Regions from separate parts of the Homo sapiens genome. Here region 2 is linked to region 1. The links come from fine-mapping of genetic effects on gene expression. Tissue or cell type: whole blood. Region 1 holds a variant in brackets; the other region holds the start of a gene. All regions are shown on one strand. Distances are from middle to middle.

Region 1 (2,682 bases):
AGAGTGTTCCGGGAGCTGGGCAGACCTGCCTTAAGGAACAGTAATGCAAACTCAGTTTCGTTCTTTACAAACGGAGGTGATCTCCCCTACCCAACAAGCCATAGGCACAAGGCCCCAGTCGAAAAGGGTAGAAATGTCTCCATTAATTCCACAGGCCTCGCAAACACAAGCTCTGTCAGCATTCTGGTATGTTCTAGGGTGTGGACAGTATCTGTCAAAGATGTTCTCTTGCAAGAGGATCACCTGAGGCCAGGAGTTCAAGACCAGCCTGGGCAACATAGGGAGACTCCAGCTCTACAAAAAAATTAAAAATTAGCCAGGCATGGTGGTGCACACCTGTGGTCCCAGCTACTTGAGAGGCTGAGGCAAGAAGATCAGCAGTGATTGAACCACTACGATCCAGCCTGGGCAACAGAGCAAGACCCTATCTGTTTAAAAGAAAAGTAGGCAGGGCACAGTGGCTCACTCCTATAATCCTAGCACTTTGGGAGGCCAAGGCAGTCGGATTGCTTGAGGCTAGGAGTTCAAGACCAGCCTGGCCAACATGGCAAAACCCCATCTCTACTAAAAATACAAAAATTAGCTGGTCATGGCCAGGCGCTGTGGCTCACACCTGTAATCCCAACACTTTGGGAGGCTGAACCGGGCAGATCACTTGAAGTCGGGAGTTCAAGACCAGCCTGGCCAACAAGGTGAAACACCGTCTCTACTAAAAATACAAAGAAAGAAAGAAAGAGAGAGAGAGAGGGAGGGAGGGAGGGAGGAAGGAAAAGAAAGGAAAGAAAAGGAAAAAAGAGATGAAAGAAAGGAAAGGAAAGAAAGGAAAGGAAGAAAGAAAGGAAGAAAGGAAGAAATTAGGCTGGGCGCCGTGGCTCACGCCTGTAATCCCAGCACTTGTGGGAGGCTGAGGCGGGCAGATCACGAGGTCAGGAGATTGAGACCATCCTGGCTAATGCGGTGAAACCTCATCTCTACTAAATACACACACACACACAAATTAGCTGGCCATGGTGGCGGACGCCTGTAGTCCCAGCTACTTGAGAGGCTGAGGCAGGAGAATGGCATGAACCCAAAAGGCGGAGCTTGCAGTGAGCCAAGATTGCGCCACTGCACTCCAGCCTGGGCGACAGAGCGAGACTCCATGTCAAAAAAAAAAGAAATTAGCCGGGGGTGGT[G/C]GTGGGCGCCTGTAGTCCCAGCTACTCAGGAGGCTGAGGCAGGAGAATCACTTGAACCCCAGAGATGGAAGTTGCAGGGAACCACAATCACACCACTGCACTCCAGACTGGGTGACAGAGGGAGACTCTGTCTTGGAAAAAAAAAAAAATACTATAGAGACTGGGGTCTCCCTATGTTGCCCAGGCTGGCCTCAAACTCCTGGACTCAAGTGATCCTCCCACCTCAGCTTCCCAAAGTGATGGGATTACAGGGCTGAGCCACAGAGCCCAGCCCCTCTGCCACTTTTGAATACAGGAAGTATAGGGTTTGCCACTAGCAGAGGCCACTCACGGGGAGTCACATCATCCATTCTGCCTGGATGTCAGGCTGCAGAAACCTTCCACCTTCAAAGGCCTGTCAGAGTCAAGAGGTGTTTCTTCAAGAGTCATCAGGGGCAGCTGAGAGACACGGGTCCTATGCATTCTCCCTTACACGTATCCCATGAGATGAGGAATGTTGAGGTTCCCATTGTAAAGATGGAGAAACTGAGGCGCAGAGAAGTTTAAGCCGCAGCTCAAGGTCAGCAGCTATTGAGTAGAGGAGCTGGGATCACGTCTATCCAGAAATGCCACTCTCAGTACCCATGCCCCTGTGGAGCCTGGGAGTAAGCAATAGGAGAGAAACCCACCTGGGCAACATAGCAAGACCCCATCTCTACAAAAGTAAAAATGTAGCCAAGTGTGGTGGCACACACCTATAGTTCCAGCTACTAGGGAGACTGAGATGGGAGGATAGATTGTGCCCAGGAGGTCAAGGCTGCGGTGAGCCATGATTGCACCACCGCACTCCAGCTTGGGTAACAGAGTGAGACCTTGTCTCAAGAAAAGAGAAATGGCCAGGCATGGTGGCTCACACCTGTAATCCCAGCACTTTGGGAGGTCAATGTGAGCAGATCGCTTGAGGTCAGCTGTTCCAGACCAGCCTGACCAACACAGTAAAACCTCATATCTACTAAAAATACAAAAATTAGGCCAGCATGTTGGCTCATGCCTGTAATCCCAGAACTTTGGGAGACCGAGGCGGGTGGATCACTTGAGGCCAGGAGTTCAAGATCAGCCTGGCCAACGTGGTGAAACCCCATCTCTACTAAAAATACAGAAATAAGGACCGGGCACGGTGGCTCACACCTGTAATCCCAACACTTTGGGAGGCCGAGGTGGGCGGATCACTTGAGGTCAGGAGTTCGAGACCAGCCTGACCAACATGGTGAAACCCCATCTCTACCAAAAATACAAAAATTAGCCGAGCGTGGTGGTGGGCGCCTGTAATCCCAGCTACTAGGGAGGCTGAGGCAGGAGAATCGCTTGAACCCAGGAGGCAGAGGTTGCAGTGAGCTGAGACTGCACCATCACACTCCAGCCTGGGCAACAAGAATGAAACTCCATCTCAAAAACAAACAAACAAAAAATTTAGCTGGGCGTGGTGGTGGGCACTTGTAGTCCCAGCTACTTGGGAGGCTGAGTCACG
Region 2 (2,682 bases), 55 kb after region 1:
TTTTGAGACAGAGTTTCTCTCTTATCTCCCAGGATGGAGTGCAGTGGCCCGATCTCGCTTCACTGCAACCTCCGCCTCCCGGGTTCAAGTGGTTCTCCTGCCTCAGCTTCCCAAGCAGCTGGGATTACAGGTGCTCGCCACCACACACGGCTAATTTTTGTATTTTTAGTGGAGATGGGGTTTCACCATATTGGCCAGGCTGGTCTCGCACTCCTGACCTCAGGTGATCCGCCTGCCTCAGCCTCACAAAGTGCTGAGATTACAGGTGTGAGCCACTATGCCCGGCCGCCCATGGGGTTTTGAGTGTCGGGGGAGGAATCTCAGTCCCACGTATCCACCACTTGTCATTCACCATCTCACGGAGCCCCCAGCAGTGCCTCCAGCAGGAAATGATCCTAATCATAACAACAGCCACAGAGTGACGAGGCACTGGGTATACCCCGTCTCACAAAGGGGAAAAGGGAGGCACAGACATGCGAGGCCTCTTGCCCGAGCTCTCCCGGGACAAAGCCAGCTCTTCCCCGCTCCAAGTTCATTATTCCTTGTGCTGCAGTTTCCTGGAGCATTTACTGAGCATCTAAGTGAACAGGGCACTGGGGGCAATGACAGAGCTTGGGGAGCCAGCGCCACCGCCATCCATGGCTCAGCCCTCCGTGACGCCCTCCTATGCAATTACTAATCACCTACTGCTTCTCCATCCCTAGGCTAGCTAAGAGTTTCACACTTTTTCTGTTTTTTTTTTTTTTTGAAACAGAGTCTTGCTCTATACCCCAGGCTGGAGTGCAATGGCACGATCTCTGCTCACCGCAACCTCCGACTCCTGGGTTCAAGCGATTCTCCTGCCTCAGCCTCCTGGGTAGCTGGAATTACAGGCGAGCACCACCACACCTGGCTAAGTTTTGTATTTTTAGTAGAGACGGGGGGTTTCACCACGGTGACCGGGTTGGTCTCAAACTTCTGACCTCAGGTGATCCGTCCGCCTCAGCCTCCCAAAGTGCTGGGATTATAGGCGTGAGCCACCGTGCCTGGCACATTTCCCACGTTTTGTGGCACTTAATCAGCACCGCCCTGGTGAAGTGGGTGCACGTCTGTAGCCAGCCTGTCTTGAGGTAAGTCAAGTTCGCTGAACTAACAGCGTGAGACCCCGAGGCAACCCCTTCTCCTCCCTGTGCCTCAGTTTCCTCCGCCACACAAGGGAGACAGCAACAGACCTGGCATGATTCAGCGACCTAATCACAGCAGGTACTGAGAACAGCACCCGCCAGCAAGTAAAGGCGAACGCGAGGCTCGAAGAGGCCAGGAATGCCTGACCAGCCAGCCAGCGCCCCACCCAGCATTAATCAGAGGGGTCCAGCCGGTGCCCTGGCTCTGGGCCCCCAGCCCCACCCCCGCCTTCTCACAGCCAGAGTGGGAGTGTTGTGATAACCCGCAGCCCCCGTTTCCTCCGGGCCAGGAAGGAGCCAGGCAGAGGAAGTATTAAGAGGAGTAATATAAGCACTCCCCCCTGCGAGGCGGGGGCCAGAGCAGGCCTGGTGGTGAGCAGGGACGGTGCACCGGACGGCGGGATCGAGCAAATGGGTCTGGCCATGGAGCACGGAGGGTCCTACGCTCGGGCGGGGGGCAGCTCTCGGGGCTGCTGGTATTACCTGCGCTACTTCTTCCTCTTCGTCTCCCTCATCCAATTCCTCATCATCCTGGGGCTCGTGCTCTTCATGGTCTATGGCAACGTGCACGTGAGCACAGAGTCCAACCTGCAGGCCACCGAGCGCCGAGCCGAGGGCCTATACAGTCAGCTCCTAGGGCTCACGGCCTCCCAGTCCAACTTGACCAAGGAGCTCAACTTCACCACCCGCGCCAAGGATGCCATCATGCAGATGTGGCTGAATGCTCGCCGCGACCTGGACCGCATCAATGCCAGCTTCCGCCAGTGCCAGGGTGACCGGGTAAGGCTGTGGGCAGGACACTCGCCCTGGGGACCCTGAGCAAGCCCCCTCACCTCTCTGAGCCTGAGTTTCCTCATCCAAGAGAGGGGGACGATCACAGGACCAATGCTCTCTTTTCTTATGAGACAGAGTCTCGCTCCGTCTCCCAGGCTGGAGTGCAGTGGTGCAATCTCGGCTCACTGCAACCTCTGCCTCCTGGGTTGGAGTGATTCTCCTGCCTCAGCCTCCCGAGTAGCTGGGATTACAGGCATGTGCCATCATAACCGGCTCATTTTTGTATTTTTAGTAGAGATGGGGTTTCACCATGTTGGCCAGGCTGGTCTCAAACTCCTGACCTCAAGTGATACGCCTGCCTTGGCCTCCCAAATTGTTGGGATTACAAGCGTGAGCCACTGCACCCGGCCGATAGATTTTTTTTTTTTCCTTAAGAGACAGGGTCTCCATGTGTATCCTGGGCTGGATGGAGTGCAATTGCTATCACAGCTCACTGCAACCTCAATCTCCTGGACTCAAGTGATCCTCTTGCCTCAGCCTCCTGAGTAGCTGGGACTACAGGCGTGCACCACCACACCCAGCTAATATGTTTATATTTAGCAGAGATGAGGTCTCACTATGTTGCCCAGGCTAGTCTCGAACTCCTGGGCTCAAGCAATCCTCTCACCCCAGCCTCCCAAACTGCTGGGATTACAGGTGTGGGGCACTGCGTCCAGCTAAATTTTTTTTATTTCTTTTCTTTTTT

What was found. PIP is the estimated chance that this variant, and not a neighbour inherited with it, causes the effect.
Region 2: PLVAP starts here. The variant in region 1 is fine-mapped to the expression of PLVAP in whole blood (TOPMed, PIP above 0.99).

Annotation. Positions count from the first base shown.
Region 1 is chr19:17,430,747-17,433,428 of GRCh38, reverse strand. No RefSeq gene overlaps it. Among named protein-coding and RNA genes, the nearest start is that of MVB12A, 12 kb to the right of the region's middle. The variant G/C (reference allele first, on the strand shown) is at 1,176.
Region 2 is chr19:17,376,181-17,378,862 of GRCh38, reverse strand. PLVAP (plasmalemma vesicle associated protein) reads left to right here and starts at 1,521. Exons shown (of 6, transcript NM_031310.3): 1 at 1,521-1,943. The coding sequence starts at 1,575. It overlaps LOC105372298 (a long non-coding RNA gene), which reads left to right. Exons shown (of 3, transcript XR_936362.3): 3 at 33-73.